Homo sapiens: one gene and its partners. The protein of the gene in region 2 purifies or fractionates together with the protein of the main gene of each other region. This does not show direct contact. Each region holds a gene or a part of one and is shown on either strand. Other genes may lie near its edges.

What was found. Proteins that work in one complex are often made in the same cells at the same time.
Region 1: the proteins of HIBADH (region 2) and PEX7 purify together in Homo sapiens (co-immunoprecipitation; one large-scale study listed by IntAct). This does not show direct contact.
Region 3: the proteins of HIBADH (region 2) and RNASEH1 purify together in Homo sapiens (affinity purification with mass spectrometry; one large-scale study listed by BioGRID and IntAct). This does not show direct contact.
Region 4: the proteins of HIBADH (region 2) and PICALM fractionate together in Homo sapiens (co-fractionation; one large-scale study listed by BioGRID). This does not show direct contact.

Annotation. Positions count from the first base shown.
Region 1 is NC_000006.12:136,828,212-136,833,334, forward strand, and holds part of PEX7 (peroxisomal biogenesis factor 7), read left to right. Parts: intron 1-5,123. UniProt on the Homo sapiens protein: Receptor required for the peroxisomal import of proteins containing a C-terminal PTS2-type peroxisomal targeting signal. Specifically binds to cargo proteins containing a PTS2 peroxisomal targeting signal in the cytosol.
Region 2 is NC_000007.14:27,529,153-27,534,648, reverse strand, and holds part of HIBADH (3-hydroxyisobutyrate dehydrogenase, mitochondrial isoform 1 precursor), read left to right. Parts: intron 1-3,300; coding exon 3,301-3,457; intron 3,458-5,496.
Region 3 is NC_000002.12:3,544,091-3,549,213, reverse strand, and holds part of RNASEH1 (ribonuclease H1 isoform 1 precursor), read left to right. Parts: intron 1-101; coding exon 102-156; intron 157-489; coding exon 490-574; intron 575-1,158; coding exon 1,159-1,283; intron 1,284-3,322; coding exon of another isoform or gene 3,323-3,342; coding exon 3,343-3,429; 3' UTR 3,430-5,123. UniProt on the Homo sapiens protein: Endonuclease that specifically degrades the RNA of RNA-DNA hybrids.
Region 4 is NC_000011.10:85,955,932-85,959,759, reverse strand, and holds the end of PICALM (phosphatidylinositol-binding clathrin assembly protein), read left to right. Parts: intron 1-699; coding exon 700-714; 3' UTR 715-2,585; downstream 2,586-3,828. UniProt on the Homo sapiens protein: Cytoplasmic adapter protein that plays a critical role in clathrin-mediated endocytosis which is important in processes such as internalization of cell receptors, synaptic transmission or removal of apoptotic cells.

The DNA.
Region 1 (5,123 bases), on a different chromosome or scaffold from region 2:
TGTACATTTATTTGTTTTTAGTGTACATTGAGATAAGTAAGTAATGAATAAAATAAATGTATGTACCAGTTAAAATAATCTCTGGTGTAACTACTCTCTGGAAAATACTGTTCTAGGATATCCTGGATGGATGCTCACTCAGTCTTTACTTCCTGTCAGTGAAAGTAAATTTCACTTTCTCTTGAGATAACTTATTTGACTTTTAGGTTGTTCTGATTATTAAGAAACTGCTTCTTGTAATCCCAACTCTACCTTCTATAGCAACCAACTGCTGCTTTTAGTGTCTTTCTCTGAAGTGGCAAGACCAGGTCCAGCCCCTCTTGTCCAGGAAACCTCTTGAAAATAGCCATCGTGCTCTCTTCCAGACTGTGCACTTGTCATTTCATTGTCCTGTCCTCAGATGACATGATCTGTACGTCTTTCATCCTTCTGATAGCCTCCTTTGATAATCCTGTTTTTCAACTCCCCTTTCAACATATACCTAATTTATTCCAGAAATGTGATGAAGGGCTAAGCTTTATAAGATTTTACCACCATAGTCTTGAGCCCCTAGCTCTAATAATATTACCTAAAGTGGCTATACATTGTTCTCAGCCATGTCTTAGTGTTAGGTTACTTTGAGTCTGCTAGTAACACACTTACCTCTTTTGTTATTTGAACTGCTATTAAACCAGTTTTACATCATTCTGTGATTTTGCAGCTGATTTCTTGAACCGAAGACACACTTCTGTTTTTTAATTTTTTAAATTTGTTTTGCGTACTGCTATTCTAGTTAGACTTCCTCGTTTTCTTTTCAAATGCACTTTTTGGTAAGCGTTTGTATCAGGATGCCTTGAATGTTAGTGTAATAGAAAACAATTAAATGGCTTCAACAGTCAGAGTTTACTGTTTCACATATTTTGCTTGGTTATGTGAAAAATAAATGAAGATAACCTTTTTAGGTATTTGTTACAGCAGCACCCCTAATTCTTGGCACCAGTTTCTGCCTCAGTCTGTTCAGGCTGCTGTAACAAAGTATTATAGACTGGGTGCCTTATAAAGAACAGAAATTTATTTCTTACTATTCTGGAGGTTGGAAGTCCAAGGTCAGGGTGCCCACATGTTTGGGTTCTGATGAGGGCCCTCTTTTAGGTCAAAGACTACTGCTGTCTTTTCATTGTATCTGCAGGTGGTGGAAAGAGAATGAGAGAGGTTTGGGAAATCCCTTTTATAAGAGCACTAATCCCATTCATGAGGGCTCTACATTCATGACCTAATTACCCCCCAGAGGCCCTACGTCCTAAAACCATTACACTGGGGGGTTAAGATTTCAACATGTGGGTTTTGTGGGGATATATTCAGTCCATTGCATATGCCAGATACTCAAAAATACTTAAAAGGATTTAAGCTCAAATGAGAGTTTTAAGGAGCTAGTAAATATTTGTTGAATAAATTAATAAATGAGGCTGAGTGCAGTGAGTCATGCCTGTAATCCTAACACTTTGGAAGGTCGAGGTGGGCAGATCACTGAAGGCCAGGAGTTTGGGACCAGCCTGGCCAACATGGCGAAAACCCCGCCTCTACTAAAAATAAAAAAATTAGCTGGGTGTGGTGGTGCACACCTGTAGTCCCAGCTATTTGGTGGCTGAGGCACAAGAATCATTTGAGCATGGGAGGTGGAGGTTGCAGTGAGCTGAGTTCGTGCCATTGCACTCCAGCCTGGACAACAGAGTGAGACCCTGTCTTAAAAGAAAGTTATTAAAAAAAAAAGTTGATAATGAACATAGCCAATTTCTGTTTTTTTTTTTTCCACCAGTATGTTCAGGGAAGCTGTGTTGTGAAATAGAAGAGCAACTAATGGGTCATTTTCTTCTGTGGAAGAGAGTATATAATAAAGACGTATAGCATGGTTTTAGTCAATCTTGGATTTGAATCCCAGCTTTGTAAGTTACCTGTTGTGAGACCTTGCGTATGTCACATATTTTTCCTAAACTTGAGTGTTTTTATTTGCAAACTAAGTTTATTAGTAGTCTGTATCACAGACCAGCATTGAATAAATATGAGCTAGTATTATTATTTGCTCTTATTATAATAGGGTTTGAAAAATGTAAAACAAGTTAGAACTTTTCCAGTTACCCACTTTACCACTTGATGGCTATGTGTCCAACAGTCAATTTTCAAGTTGTCAGATGAAGCAAAAAAGAGAAATCCAAGATTTAGATATATTTTAGGCTTTGAGGAGTGAAGGTCTTGGTGAAATGAAAAGAAAGAAAAACATGGACATTATCTGTGTGAATGGTTGCTAAACCTAGCATCGAAGTAGGAATCAAATTCTTCTGTCTATTGTTTAACTGGTGTCTGCAGAGGTCATTATGTCTTTTGAGTCCCATAAAATGCCTTTGGCTTTGCTTATTCTAATGCTGCTGAATATATAATAAAAATTTTTAAAAGTTCAGTGAGAATAGAAAAATAAGAGTGAATTGACAATTTTATTTCACTGCTTTCTGACTTAAAACACTGTGCTACTGAGAGTGAGTTAAAGTGACTTTAAAGATGACATAAATCAATGTAATATATTAATTTCTAATTTTCAGACTAATGAGTTGGCTTATCACAATTTAAAAATGAGTTAAAATTTGTTCTCATAGTCAAATAACAAGGTTTATCAATTTGCTGAATTTTTATAACATATTTGATCCATTGAGGTTTTTGAGCATTGCTTATAAAAACTTATTTTTGACCTAAGTATACAACTATTAGTATTCTGTTATGGAGGAAATGTATTTGCTTATACATTTCAAGAGTTAAAATCTTGTTTACTTTAAAAAATGAATCAATTATTTACTTTTTGATAATGATAGAAGCTGAGAAGTCAATAATGATAGGTATTGTATTAGTCTGTTTTCACATTGTTATAAAGAAATACCTGAGAGTGGGTAATTTATAAAGGAAAGAGGTTTAATTGACTCACAGTTCCACATGACTGGGGAGGCCTCAGGAAACTTAAAATTATGGCAGAAGGTGAAGGGGAAGTAGATAACCTTCTTCACAAGGCAGCAGGAGAGAGAGAAAGAGAGAGAGAGAAAGCAGGGGAAACTGCCACTTTTAAAGCCATCAGATCTTTTGAGAACTCCCTCACTATCACAAGAACAGCATGGGGGAAACTGCCCCCATGATCCGATCACTTCCTACCGGGTTCCTCCCTGGACACATGGGGATTACAATTCAAGATGAGATTTGGGTGGGGATATAAAGCCAAACCATATCATTCCACTCCTGGCGCCTCCCAAATTTCATGTCTTTTTCACATTTCAAAACCAATCATGACTTTCCAACAGTCCCCCAAAGTCTTAACTTATTCCAGCATTAACCCAAAAGTCCAAGTCCAAAGTCTCATCTGAGACAAGGCAAGTCCCTTTTGCCTATGAGCCTATAAAATAAAAAACAAGTTAGTTACTTCTAAGATACAGTAGGGCTATAGGCATTAGCTAAATGTTTCAAATGGGAGAAATTGGCCAAAACAAAGGGGCCACAGGCCCCATGCAAGTCTGAAACCCAGCAGTGCAGTTACTAAATCTTAAAGCTCTGAAATGATCTCCTTTGACTCCATATCTCACATCCAAGGGGTAGGCTCCCATGGCCTTGGGCAGCTCTACCCTTGTAGCTCTGAAAGGTGCAGTCCTTATGGCTGCTTTCACTGGCTGGCATTGAGTGCCTGTGGCTTTTCCAGCTGTACAATACAAGCTGTCAGTGAATCTACCTTTCTGGGGCCTGGGGGACAGTGGCTCTCTCCTCACAACTCCAGTAGGCAGTGCCCCAGTGGGGACTGTGTGGGGCCTTCAACCCCACATTTTCCTTCTGTACTGCCCTAGCAAAGGTTCTCCATGAGGGCTCCTCCCTTGCAGCAGACTTCTGCCTGGACATTCAGGTGTTTCCATACATCCTCTGAAATTTAGGTGGAGGTTAAACTCTTGTCTTCTAAACTCTTCTTGTCTTCTGTGTACCCACAGACCCAACACCACATGGAAGCTGCCAAGGTTTAGGGCTTGCACCCTCAGAAGCAATGGCTTGAGCTGTACCTTGGCTCCTTTTAGCCATGGCTGGAGCTAGAGCAGCTGGATGCAGGGCACCATGTCTTGAGGCTGCACAGAGCAGCAGGGCCACTCAGGCCCACAAAACCATTTTTCCCTCCTAGGCCGCTGGGCCTGTGATGGGAGGGGCTTCTGCAAATGTCTCTGACATGCCTTGGATACATTTTTCCCATTGTTTTGGCTATTAATATTTGGCTCCTTGTTACTTATACAAATTTCTGCAGCAGGTTTGAATTTCCCCCCAAGAAATAGGTTTTTCTTTTCTACCTCATGGTTAGGTTGCAAATTTTCTGAACTTTTATGCTGTGCTTCCCTTTTAAATATAAGTTCCAAATTCAAATAATCTCTTCATGAATGCATGTGACTATACACTTTTAGAAACAACCGGGTCACTTCTTGAATGCTTTGGTGCTTAGAAATCTCTTTCACCAGACACTCTAAATCATCTCTCTCAAATTCAAGCTTCCACGGATCTCTAGGGCAGGGGCAAAATGCCACCAGTCTCTTTGCTAAAGCATTGCATGAATGACCTTTACTCCAGTTCCCAGTAAGTTCGTCATCTCTATTTGAGACCACCTCAGCCTGAACTTCATTGTTCATATCACTATTAGCATTTTGTTCAGAACCATTTAAGAAGTCTTTAAGAATTTCCAAACTTTCCCACATCTTCCTGTCTTCTTCTGAGCCCTCACACTGTTCCAGCCTCTGCCCGTTACCCAGTTCCAAAGTTGCTTTGACATTTTCAGATTATCTTTATAGCAGTACCTCACTATCCTGGTACCAATTCTCTATATTAGTCCTTTTTCACACTGCTATAAAGAAATACCTGAGGCTGGGTAATTTATAAAGGAAAGAGGCTTAATTGACTCACAGTTCTGCATGACTGGGGAGGCCTTAGGAAACTTACAATCATGGTGGAAGCAGACACCTTCTTCAGAAGGTGACAGGAGAGAGAGAGCAAGGGAAACTGCCACTTTTAAAAGCATCAGATCACATGAAAACTCACGATCACTAGAACAGCATGGGGGAAACTGCACCCATGATCCAGTCACC
Region 2 (5,496 bases):
TTGCCATATCTTAAGAATATACCTGGCAGGTATTAGGCACCCAGTGAAGATTTGTCAGATAAATAAGGAGAGGAGGGAGGAGGTAGGGGAGTGAGTGAGTGAGGGGATAAGATATGGCACTTCTCTTGCCAAAGGTAAAAGTTATCCAGGTGGGTCTTAACTCAGCCCTCCTGGCAGACAGGCACAGCCTCCTCTTAGCTTCCTTCTTACTGTCTCCTTCGCTGCACGTGTAGCACTTGGATATAGCAGATCTGAGTAAACATTGATGGATAAGTGATTGATTAATTAAAACTGACATGGTCTTAGATGTTTCATTTCCAGATCTGTTCCTGTGATACAAACATCCCAGTTTAGTGACATAATTTATTTCGTTCTTACGTGAAACCAGACAGTATAGATTACTCACAGATAATATAAACAAACATTTTTGGCCCTTAAAGTCTTGGTTACAGTGAAGGCAAATGTTTAATTTTTTAAATTTTTTTGCAGTTTATGCATTATTTTTACTTCTTCCAAACCTCATTTAAAATTCTTGTTTTAGAGGTGAGTAGATTTGACACAGTGACGTTTATTTGAGACGCATTATATATGCAGTCAGAGCGATGAATTCATTCTGTTTATATCAGAGAACATTCCAGCAATTGTAAAGCCACATGCATGCACGCATGCACTCTCGAACCACATCCAGTGGCAAGTTATTATGGGGACTGACAGACTGTCATTCTTTTGATGGCTTGAGCTGTATATCTTCTGAACAGCAATGGGGCTCTTATGCAGAAAGTATCATATGTTCCCAGCCAATTTACAGGGAAACAGCAATAACATTTTATCATGGTTGAGAGCCCAGTAGCTGCTTCCTATTAAACTTGCCCTTTCAGATACCTGTCTTGGATTAATTTGTTGATTTCGAATGGAAACTCAGTCTTCTCCAGTGAAGCATGACGTTCTAGGATAGACTCTGAATGACAATTACTGTGTATTCTAGCTGGTTTCAGACCATTACAAGCCTTGGGCACAGTGGAAAACAGAGGACTTCAGTAACTGATTTTAATATCATGTCTAATTTTAACTGTCAGTTATGTATGTGCCAGAGAACGAATCCTCAGAAAGATGAAATGCAAAACACTTCTAACTTGCTCTTTTTAATGATACACTTTGCTGCGGGTGGGGGCAGGGGGAGGGAAGTGGAGAGGGAATAACTATCTCCTGAAGGGAATCAGCACGGTGGGGAAGCATCAGATTTGAAAAGTGAGAATGAAACAACTGCCACCTGATTTTTTGTGTGTGCCCCTCAGGATGCTTCTAAATAGTAATGTGTTCACCAGAAAGGGTTTCCATCAATCAATACCAGTACTTTTCCTTGAACATTCAAGAAAAATGTAGGGTTTTACAAAGTTAGGATAATTAGCTTTGCTCACCATTTTGTTGAATATTATAGAAAAGAGTGAATTTCCTTAGCTGTAAAAGCTCTTGTGAGCTACTACTGAGTGTAACCTGGTAGATTAGAAAGAAGGAAGGAATTCTGCTGCTTTAAATATGATGAACCATCTTAAAAGATCTAAGTTAGGAAGCCCTGAAATTATATTTCAAATGGAGAGAGAAAGTGACGTTTTGGAGTCTTTAAAAGTATTTTCTCCTTATGGAGCATATTAGATGTATGCATTCTTGAACATTTGGTACTTTGCAGTTATAGCAAATTAACTAATTGTTAATTGTGATTTTACTTTTCACAATTATTCCCTAAGCACACTGGCTTTATCTTTTCCTAAGTGATATACTACAGTAGCATACTGATAGCCTAATCTTATTTAAAAGGAGAAAGCAAGCATCAGTAGCATACTATGCATGCAGTGAACTTGGATCTTTATAAAAGAATGAATGAAACTGTTGGGTTTCTCTCTGGGAATCTACAGTTGAACAGAATGAATGATAGCCAATTTAGACTGAATTTCTGTATCTGTTACAATCCTTAGTAAAATCCATCACTATAACATGGGCCACCATATGAATTCAGATACATGATATGCCACATAGCAGTCTGGGAACCACAGCTACCCCTTGAAAGCCTGATTACATAACAGTTGTATTATGTGGTAATTCCATACATATTTTTGGCTGTTAGCCTCAGCCCCCTGCTCTAGCATCTGAAAAAATGTTTTATTGGCCATGATATTCAGATTTTGAAATAAACAGGCATGTGTTTTAGACACACAGAGTAAACAATCTGAGCGTGCCAAGATGCACAGTTTGTTTAACATTTACATAAGTGTCTCTTTTCAGTGTTTTTTTTATTTTCTGGAAGAGGTTGGTTTTAAGAAAAAGTGGAAAGCTTTTATGACAATTGTTTCATAATGGCTCTGTGTATGAAAGAAACCAAATAAATTGCTAGGAATAAAGTTTTATTTGAAACTTGATTCAGTGATACCTAGCAAAATTGTGCTTCCCAAACTGCATTATATCTTTAGAATCCAAGTAATGGAGCATTTTGATTCTATTATTTTTTCTAGGGTCCACATTGAACAGCCGTTTATGCCATCAGCCCAGTGATAGAACAAATGATGTTTCTGCTTGGGCAAGCTTTGTTTTATCAGGATCAGTAACCTTATCAGCAGTTGACCCAGAACTATAATGCATGTCTCTGAATAGATAGCATATGTCACAACTCTGTGCAGACTTGCTTCATAAGCAAGATTGTCTAATAAAGATTTAATAAATAAGGAAAAGTTTGCAGCAAAAAGTCTTCTTTTATAATAACTTTTCTTAAGCTCGTTTACAGCTCCTGGCTCATCTCTTGCATTTATTCTCATAAAAACTAAAGGAATAAACATACATATAAATGCATTCACACAGACTCCCATGATGCATCGTTTATCTGTCAGTATTTCTTTCTGAAATATATCATTTGTGGGTAAAGAATGTAGAATTTAAATTATCATATTGTTTTAAGGTTCTTATGTGACATATAAATGTAGTAATGTCCAAAGACTAGAAAACCCATGAGTGTGATAAACCAACAATATTTTTATGCAATTGTATATTATTTTTTCTTAATAATAGGATAACATAGAAGGTTTTCTCCAAATGCAAAATGGTCCTGGCTCAAAAATATTCTTATTTAACCAGTAGTGTTTAGTACTCTATAATTCAAAATTGGATTCTTCACTCTCGTATCAACCTGCTTAGATTTTAGAAGACATATAATAAATGGAGAGAGAAGATGGAGCATCCCCATACATAAATAAGTCACGCACGACGTGTACATTTTGACACTTAACACTTCTTTTCTTTGACCTTTGACAGGTTAGGGCTTGACCCAAAACTACTGGCTAAAATCCTAAATATGAGCTCAGGACGGTGTTGGTCAAGTGACACTTATAATCCTGTACCTGGAGTGATGGATGGCGTTCCCTCGGCTAATAACTATCAGGGTGGATTTGGAACAACACTCATGGCTAAGGTATGGTAAATGTAGACACCCAAGAGAGAAGGAAAAACGTTTCACGGTCCAATAACACCTTCCTTCTCTTTCTCTTAATAAAGCATATGTCTCAGGTAAGAGGCAAAATTACTAGAATATTCACTCTCACTGAAAATGAGTAAAAACCTAACTTAGATGAAAATCCTTATCTTGTTCATTTTTATTCCTGGCCTTTTGGTTGAGAAGAATGGGCCAGACCATGTGTGTGTGTGTATGTGTGTGCGTGTGTGTGTGTGTGCGCACTTGGGTTTATTTATATGAGCCGGTAAAATTTCGTTCACCATTAATTTATGTTAATTTACCAACTTCTTAAATGAGAACAGTGAGAATTTTCTCATTGTTAATAATACACTGGCAGTGCATATATGCATCACGAAGAGAGGATTTTCCCATTGATAATAGATTTCCAAATACATCTTCCTGCTTTAAGATTTTAATATATGGATTTATATATAAAAACTAGTTAAGTCATTGGAAAAGCAAACTGTCATCCTTCTCTTATTTGAGATCTCAACTTTAGAAAGTCTATGTTCTCAACTACAGAAAATAATTTTTAGACCAGCTAACTTTCAGATTTCTGCAGTGCTTATTTTCTCCCAGTTGAGGGTTGGTTTTTGTTTGTTTGTTTGTTTGTTTGTTTTTCCTGATTAAAAAGTAAGAATACGGCCAGGCGCGATAGCTCATGCCTTTAATCCCAGCATTTTGGGAGGCCGAGGAGGGCAGATCACCTGAGGTCAGGAGTTCGAGACCAGCCTGGCTAACATGGTGAAACCCAGTTTCTACTAAAAATAAAAAAAATTAGTCGGGCGTGGTGGTGCGTGTCTGTAAGCCCAGCTACTCAGGAGGCTGAGGCAGGAGAATCGCTTGAACCCGGGAGGTGGAGATGGCAGTCAGCTGAGATAGCACCATTGCACTCCAGCCTGGGCAACAGAGTGAGACTTCGTCTCAAATAGAAAAAAAAAAAGAAAAAGAATACATATACCTAGATACCACACAAGCATACCTTGGAGATATTGTGGGTTCAGTTCCAGACAACCACAACAAGTCACACAAATTTTTTGGTTTCCCAGTACATATAAAAATTACGTTTATACTATGCCATAGTCTATTAAGTGTGCATTAGCATTATGTCTAAACAATATACGTATCTTAATTTTAAAATGCTCTATTGCTAAAAAAGCTAACAATTATCTGAGCCTTCAGTGAGTCATATAGTCCTTTTTTGCTGGTGGAAGGTCTTGCCTTGAGGTTGATGAATGGTGATTGACCAGGGTGGCGGTTGCTGAAGGTTGGGTGGCTATGACAATTTCTTAAAATAGGACAGTAATGAAGTTTAAGTTTACTGCATTGATTTACTCATCCTTTCACAGAAGATTTATGTGCTACTGTTTGATAGCATTTTACCCACAGTAGAACTTCTTTCAAAAACGGAGGCAATCCTCTCAAACCCTGATGCTACTTTATCAACTAAGTTTGTGTAATATTCTAAATCCTTTCTGTCATTTCACCAGGAGTAGATCCATCTCAAGAAACCACTTTCTTTGCTCATCCATAAGAAGCAACTCCTCATCCCTTCAAGTTTAGCACAAGATTGTAGTAATTCAGTCACATCTGCAGGCTCCACTTCTAATTCTAGTTCTCCTATTTCCACCACGTCTGCAGTGACTTTCTCCATTGAAGTCTTAAAGGCCTCAAAGTTATCCATGAGCATTGGAATCAGCTTCTTTCAAACTCCTGTTAATGTTGATATTTTGACCTCCTCCCATGAATCACAAATATTCTTAATGGCATCTAGAATGGTGAATTATTTTCATAAGGTTTCAGTTTACTCTGCCCAGAGCTGTCAGAGGAATCACTATATATGGTAGCTATTGCCTTATGAAATACTTCTCACATAAGAGTTGAAAAATGACTCTTTGATCCATGGGCTACAGAATGGATGTTGTGTTCATAGACATGAAAACAACATTAATCTCCCTGTACATCTCCATCAGCACTCTTGGGTGACCACGTGTACT
Region 3 (5,123 bases), on a different chromosome or scaffold from region 2:
TTCAAATAAGAATACACACTAGTTTATCGTTATCCATTAAGAAGAATCACTTTGAGAATTCACTTTATACTTTTATTTTCTTTTGTACTGTTTTGAAACAGAAATGTAGGCATTAGACTTCCTGGGCGGCAGACAAACCAAAGAGCGGAAATTCATGTAAGTTATCAGATACGTTTAAGCCTCTCTTTTTTGAGCATTGAGTATGAAATTATCAAATAAACTAATTCTTTTTTTTTCTACCTATACATATAAGATATTTGAAGAGAGACGGGTTTAATAACAATTTTGAAAAATAGGAATTTTGTAGAAAAATTCTAAAAACTTATTTCAAATAGATGTCTACACAGGAGAATTGTATGTATAGTAGTGTTTCATACAGAGAATATAATCAGTACAGAGGGGATGTTTCAATTTCGAAGTACTTTTGAACTTTAGTAATGTCAGAGTTGAACATTTTCTGTAGCATGACTATCGACTTGTCTTTTCAAGGCAGCCTGCAAAGCCATTGAACAAGCAAAGACTCAAAACATCAATAAACTGGTTCTGTATACAGACAGTATGTTTACGATAAATGGTAAGCTTTCACATTTGATTTCTTCTGTTTTTCCAGTAACTGTGAAGGGAAATTGGTAGGAGGTGTTGTAACAGGGCAGGACCCAAATGGGAACGGGGGGATGACATTGGTTTGTCAGGTACCGAGCAAAGAGTGAGGATTTTGGAGTCTCCCTTCTGCTGCTCTGATGTTTTCCACATGCTTATTTCTTTGCCAGGCACTGGAGATGCAGTCAGAAGTGGAAGTGGCTCTTACTTCTAGTCTGTGTGTGTATAAGTCACTTAAGATGGCGTGTTGACTGCTTCTTTGGGAAATGCCCTGAATAGGAGCATGTAGGGGATGCTTACGAGGCTGGGGAAGGCTCCTGGGAGAAATGACATCTTAAGCTGACAGCTGTAGGTAGAATACAAGTTAGGGGAAAGGGAAGAGAGGAGGGTATTTCAGGCTGTGCCAAAGGCCAAAGCAACTAAGGCCAGCTAAGGAAGTGAAGAGTCAAGGATGGTGACTCAGAATACAAGTGGGATCAATTATAAGAGGTAAGACTAAGGAGGTGAAAAAGGCAGGACACTCAAGATTGACTCACCAGTGATCGTGCATTTTTGTAGGTATAACTAACTGGGTTCAAGGTTGGAAGAAAAATGGGTGGAAGACAAGTGCAGGGAAAGAGGTGATCAACAAAGAGGACTTTGTGGCACTGGAGAGGCTTACCCAGGGGATGGACATTCAGTGGGTGAGTATCTTAAATGTTCATGTCCTATGGCCATTATGACCAAATAAGCTAAGTTTACTAGAGATTAATGGTTTATGTAAGTGGTTTAATGACATAACAATTTCCATGATATTAATATCATAATGTATATTACAACGTATTTGAGGCTGGGCGTAGTGGCTCACGCCTATAATCCCAGCACTTTGGGAGGCTGAGGTGGGTGGATCACGAGGTCAGGAGTTCAAGACCAGCCTGGCCAGTATGGTGAAACCCCATCTTTATTAAAAAATACAAAAATTAGCCGGGCATGGTGGTGTGTGCCTGTAGTCCCAGCTACTCAGGAGGCTGAGGCAGGAGAATCACTTGAACCCAGGAGGCGGAAGTTGCAGTGAGCTGAGATCGCGCCACTGCACTCCAGCCTGAGCAACGATATGAGACTCCAAGACCCCGTCTCAAAAAAAAAAAAAAAATATGTGAGCCTGGGCTCAGTGGTTCACATCTGTAACCCAGCACTTTAGGAGGCCCAAATGGCCTGACTACTTAAGCCAAGAAGTTCGAGACCAGCCTGGATAACATGGGGAGACTCTGTTTCTCGAAAAAATAAAAAATTAGCCAGGGGTAGTGGCACATGCCTGTAGTCTAGTTACTCAGGACACTGAGGTGGGAGGATGACTTGAGCTGGGGAGGTCGAGGTTGCAGTGAGCCAAGATTGTACCACTGTACTCTAGCCTGGGCGACAGAGTGAGACCCTGTCTCAGAAAAACAAAACAAACCCACCCACATACACAAATTTGATTATTTTCCTTATCATACAAGTAATACAGTTTTTTGGTTTGGTTTTTGAGACAGGTCTCACTCTGTCACCCCAGGCTATGGCGTGATCTCATTGCAACCTCTGCCTTCTGGGTTCAAGTGATTCTCGTGCCTCAGCCTCCCAAGTATCTGGGATTACAGGCATATGCCACCACGCCTGGCTAATTTTTGTATTTTTAGTAGCGATGGAGTTTTGTCATGTTACCCAGGCTGGTCTTGAACTCTTGATCTCAAACATTCCACCTGCCTTGGCCTCTCAAAGTGCTGGGATTACATTTGTTTTGTGTCACTTCCTATATGTTTTTGTTTTATGACAAAAAGGTTTACAACTAAATCAATAATCATGTCAAACTTTTTTTTATTGTTTTGAGATGGAGTCTCGCACTGTTGCCCAGGCTGGAGTGCAGTGGCGCAATCTCGGCTCGCTGCAACCACAAGTAATACAATTCTAGTGAGAGTGTCACTAGGCATAGAATACACAGGCAGTGTGGTTTGAGGGATGTTCTACAATCCTTATATTTTGTTAAGAACACGAAGTAACACCCAACCTGGGCACATGGCATTACTATGACAGCTGTATGTCACCCTGTTCATTTCTTTGGAATGCATCATAATGTTAAATAAAACTATCAGTGTATTTTGTTTCAAACAATAGTAAGGTTGTATGATTAAAGCCTTGGTAATAGAACTTTTATTCCAAGATGGAAGCACTTTTTAAAATCATAGATCATGTTTATTAAAAAGTTTTTTTCAAGCAATAGAGAACAAATTACACTGCAGCCACTGTCTCAACCCTGCCTTGTTCTGCCTTCCTGGAACCACTGATAATAGTTTGGTAGCCTGATGTGTAAATTTGCTTTGGCAACATAAATGTAAACAGTGGTTAAATAAGTACATTATTTCTGACAGCACTGCAAGGGAAGCGTGTGTGTGTGTTGCATACATATCCGTCCACCCATCTGTACATACATGTGTTTTGCCTGGAAAGCTTATCAAGTCCCATTGATAAGTGGGGAGGAAATAGCAACATGAACGGTAAAATCCAATTTGTGAAAAAACAAAATGGAATGTTCGTAAATCACATCCATTGCGTAAACGCATGAAGAATGGACAGCGTGCTGTTGAGGATCATGTCTGGGGAGAGGAGCGTTGAAGTTGAGCTTATGCTGTGCAGTCTGTTCTGAATGGTTTTTTATGATGACAATATAGTCATGTGTTGCTTATGTAAAGATGAGTAAAAATAAAAGGAAAACATTTATCTTAACAGATGCATGTTCCTGGTCATTCGGGATTTATAGGCAATGAAGAAGCTGACAGATTAGCCAGAGAAGGAGCTAAACAATCGGAAGACTGAGCCATGTGACTTTAGTCCTTGGGAGAACTTGAGCCAGCGGCTGTCTTGCTGCCTGTACTTACTGGTGTGGAAAATAGCCTGCAGGTAGGACCATTGCAGTGATGGGCAGATGCGTCTTTCACACGGAATCAGGCACAGTGGCCTTCTGTGACATGTGTTTATAAAAAATGGTTAAGTATATAATAAATTGAACATCTTTGAGATTGGAGAATTATGTGAGATTTCCACATTATGTTTACTGGGTTCAATACTGTCCTTGCTTGTTTTATTGCAGGCAAGCAAGGCAAATGGCCTAAAATGCTGTGGCTTATATTTTGATAAGAAATCAAAAAACCATTGGTTAAAAGATGCAACTCAGAAGTCTGGAAGTATTCTGAAAGCATCCATTTACCGTCCAGTTGACAGGTTTGAGTCTCCTGCTTGTATAGGTGACTTGTGCCCATGGGTACATTAAAGGAACATGCTGCCCAGGGCCTGGGCGGACAGCTCAGTGGGCAGGATGTGTGCTGGGTCTCAGCCCCATGTGCCTGCTTGCTGGGCAGTTAGTATAGGGCAAAGCCTGCCTGCGGCGACCCTGGCTGCTAGGCCATTCTCTAGGAACAGCTGCGACTCATAAAGACCAAGAAGCATAAATAAACTTTCAAAAATTTATTTGGCTCTTTCGTTAAAAACTGTGCAAATTAAAAAAAAAAAAAAAAAAGTAAGACACCGGCTGGGCACAGTGGCTCACTTCTGTAATCCTAGCACTTTGGGAGGCCAAGGCGGGCAGATCACTTGAGGTCAGGAGTTTGAGACCAGCTTGGCCAACATGACGAAACCCTGTCTCTACTAAAATTACAAAAATTATCCAGGTGTGGTGGCACGGGCTTGTAGTCCCAGCTACTTGGGAGGCTGAGGCACAAGAATCACTTGAACCCAGGCGGCAGAGGTTGCAGTGAGCCAAGATTGCACCACTGCACTCCATCCTGGGCAACAGAGTGAGACTCTGTCTCAAAAAAAAAAAAAAGTAGTAAAAGTTTGACATGATTATTTATTTAGTTTTAAACCTTTTTATTATAAAAACATACAGGAAGTGACACAAAACAAATGTATAGCTTATTGAATGATTATGATTGTAAGGTGAATAACCTTTGTGTCCACCACCTGGTGAAGAAATAGTACTTTGCCAGATACCCCAGGAGGCTCTCCCAAGTGCCCCTCCAGCCACAGCCCTCTTCTTCTCCCCCTCCTTGCCCCAACAAGTAATCCTGACTTTTACAGAAATGACTTTCTTGGTTTTTTGATGGCAGTTTAGTCTTGTCTGCTTTTTTTTGTTTATTTTTTTATCTACTTCAGTGTCCATTTGCAGTCCCGTCGGCCTCACTGTTTTCCCTGCCGTTTATCTGTTGAAGAGCCTGGGCTGTTTGTCCCATGGCTTCCCACAGTGTAGATTTTGCTGACCACGTGGTCATGGTGTAGTTCAGCATGGTCCTCTATGTTTCCTGCACATTGGCAGCTGGGTCCAGAGGCTTGATGAGCCTCAAATTTGATCCCTTTGGCAGGAGAACAGGCGGTTAGGAGCTTTCCTCAGGAAAGTACCATGTTGACGGCAGCTGATGCTCAGTGCCAAGATCCATTAATTATTTGGGGTTGCAAAATGGTGGTATTCTCATTCTGTCGTTTTGCTTGCCTTTATTAGCTGGAATGGTTTTCTA
Region 4 (3,828 bases), on a different chromosome or scaffold from region 2:
CCCCACCCAAAAATTACCCAGGTGTGGTGGCGACTGTCTGCAGTCCTAGCTATTCAGGAGGCTGAGGCAGGAGGGTTGCTTGAGCCCAGGAGTTCCAATGAGCTTTTTTTTTTTTTTTTTTTTTTTGAGATGGAGTTTCGCTCTTGTCTCCCAGGCTGGAGTGCAGTGGCACGATCTCAGCTCACTGCAACCTCCACCTCCTGGGTTCAAGCCATTCTCCTGCCTCAGCCTCCCGAGTAGCTAGGATTACAGGCGCCCGCCACCACGCCTGGCTAATTTTTGTATTTTTAGTAGAGACGGGGTTTCACCATATTGGCCAGGCCAGTCTCGAACTCTCGAACTCACCTCAGGTGATCTGCCCACCTCAGCCTCCCAGAGTGCTGGGATTACAGGTGTGAGCTATGGTGCCCAGCCATTGAGCTTTGATCATGCCACTGCAATCCAGCCTAGACAGCAGAGCAAGACTCTGTCTCAAAAACAACAACAAAAAACATTATTTGGAAGTCCCTATATGTGTCAAATATTGAGCTTTCTGGCACATAAGTTGATAATACTGACTTTGTTTTATAAACAGGGTTTGTGATAAGCATGTTGTGAACACTTCTGGGCCAGTTAAATGGTAAAGACCACAAAGCATTTTTATTTATGAGAAGACATCCTACAATACAATGAATTAACATACCCACTTTTTTTTTCCAGATACAGTTTATGTAACTTGATGGAAGAAAATGGAATTACTCCAAAAAGACAAGTGCTCAAGCAGCAAAATCCTTACTTCCAGCAAAATCCAAACTGCTGTCTCTTAAATCTCTTAAACTCTCTTCTTCCATTAGAATGCTACAAGTAACTCAGTGAAGGCCCATGAAGGAAATTGGGACTAGTTTATAGGAGAACGTATCAATACAGTTTATAAAGCCAAGAATTGCTATGATTTAAGACTAAGATCTGTCTTTTTGGTGACTAACCCTTCAATTCTTTCAACTCCTGTTAATACCCATAATCAGTAACCTATCAAGAAAAGCCCTTATTTGGAAAGTGTGAAATTTGTATTTGGAAAAGCTGCCTGGAGAGAAGAACTGTGTCCTTTACTGTATTTCAACAGGACTCTTTTGGGGGATCAAAATTAAAATTCCTAATTATGCATTATCTTTCTTTTCTCCAGTCCTCACAAATACAGAAACAATAACTGAAATTAACTTTTCTTTTTTTAAAAAAAATTATATTCAGTTTGCAGTAGACATTCCTTAAGTATTTGTATTTATTTATGATTATCAATTTTACATAACATTAATATTGTATCAGACCTCCTTATGAAAATGAGTATGGATGTGCACAGTATGTTTGATTTTTATCCACAAGAATGAATCTGATTCAGAATGCTTTTCTCAGCTGACATACAGAGCACTAAATATTTTAAGGCAAGTCCATAGGTCTGAATCTCTTAAGAATTCTCGGCCTCTGTGGGATTTAGGGAAGCATTATAAATGCATTAATCCTTATAGTCAATTCTGTGCCTAGGATTTTGCCAGGGAACAGTTCACTGACTAGGAAAAGCACTACATTTTAAATTCAGCATTAGTGCATTGGGAAGGATCTTTACTGCTTTGTGCTTGGCATGTCATTATTTTCCATTTGACATTAGGGCCTTTCCAAAATGAATGTGAGGAATTGCTTTCACTTCAAGACTTTCCTTCTTTTCACTAAAACTCTAGAAGGTGTTACAAGGGGGAGGGAAGGGGGGCAAAGTCCTTGAACATTTTCTTTGGCTCGTGCCATGTTATGATCATATACCTTTTAAATAAGGGGAAATAGTATCTTTAAAGTTAATGTCTAGCCAAGAGTTTAGTAAACGAAGAATTAAACTGCACTGTTGATCGGTGCTTTGTGTAAATACATCTTTAACATTTGGGTGGAGAGGGGCCTTAAGAAGGACAGTTCATTGTAGGAAAGCAATTCTGTACATGAGTTTAAGCATTCTTGTTGCATTGTCTCTGCAGATTCTATTTTTGTTTACAATATTAAAATGTATGTTAGCAAAATGGGTGGATTTTCAAATAAAATGCAGCTTCCACAAAAGTTTTGTTATGGTATTCTGGTCTGAGATGCATTTTCATTTTTCCTTTCTCTTTTTATTATCAATATTGTCATTTTTCCCTAATAAAATATACCCAGGTGATTATATTTGTTGATCTAATAACATGGAAGGTTTGTTTTATATGAATTTTCAAAAAGATGTCTCTTTACACTTTTTGTTACCTTGTAGACTCTTATTGATAAATGCAACTACTTATTAAAATTGTTCACTTTTTGTCTTTTGATCAGATGCCTTTAGTCAGGTAAGTTTAAGGGAAAATACGCAGTTTAATGTTTTGGTACATATAATTATGTCTGCCAAAGAAACCTTTGATTGTATCATATTGCCTATTTAGTAGTGCATAGGGTTCAGAGTACATGATAAAGGATCAAAAGCTTTGCATTGATAAGTGTCTCATAATATTTGCTGTGATTGGAGAAAAAATGTAGTCGTAGCCAATAAATTTTATCAGCTTTTAAGTTTCAGTATTATTAAACCATTTTCATATAAACTGGGAAGTTGTACTTTTATAAGTTACCCTCCTTAACTTTACAAATTTTTGTCTCTTGTGGTGTTTGAGGAGGTGTTTATATTTAAGGTCTGTGGCTTGTTTTCTTTCATATTGCCTTTTTTTTTTTAAGTATGTTTCAGTATGTGACGTGCTTCATAGCCATTTTTATTTCATTGTTTAAACAACTTTTGGGCTATGTTTGATAAGTGTTATCCATATTTTACCCATTTTATATGTAGGAATCAGAAATCAGAAAAGGAGCTGGGTGCAGTGGCTCACACCTGTTATTCCAGTAATTTGGGAGGCTGAGGTACATGATCACTTGAGCCCAGGAGTTCAAGACCAGCCTGGGCAACATGGTGAAACGCTATCTGTACCAAAAATACAAAAATTAGCCAGGTATATGCCTATAGTCCCAGCTACTTGGGAGACTGAAGTGGTAGGATCACCCGAGTCCAGGATGTTGAGGCTGCAGTGAGCTGGGATCATGCCACTGCATACTCCACCCTGGGTGACAGAGTGAGACCCTGTTTAAAAAAAAAAGGAACTTGCCCAGATGAGTAAGTTAACAGATGGAAATCAAATCTTTGCTTTCATGGTCCATTGTTCTCTCTGTGACCTGCTGTCACGTAATTCATATATATATACTGACATGGAGATTGTTTCCCTCTGCAATCTAGACTGATGGCCACTCTTTATTCCCAGTGGTCTTTAGTGAAGTACATTTCCTGCCTCCTCCTCTGATGCCCAGACATCGTTGACAAGGAAGAATGCAAACATGCGACAAGAGCAACTTTAACCAAAATATAATGAGTGAAGTAAATCAGCTATTGATTACATAATTACATCAGGCTGTAAACTCATACATGCTCATGTCATTTTACTATCCAGTTAGCAAGTAGCTATTGGCTGAGATAAGAGAGAAGATTGTAAGCAGAGGACAACTGTACCTGTCCCAAATCGTTTTCAAAATTATTTGCCTTTGATTTAACATCTATCAGCATTCAGCATTTTTTAAAAGGTATCCCTTTCTTAACAAGTGACTATGAGAATACATATTTAGGAAGAGGACTTCCTTATGTTAGCCTAGGAATCTTCTGCTTTTCCAGAAGCCAACAAAATGTGACTTATGAGAAATAGGCCTTAATGGGATGTTTTTCTTGAACTAAAAATAATTTCAAGGTTCTTCTCATTTATCGTAACTCACAAACACGCTTCCAAACTCTGTTTGCTTATTCTACAA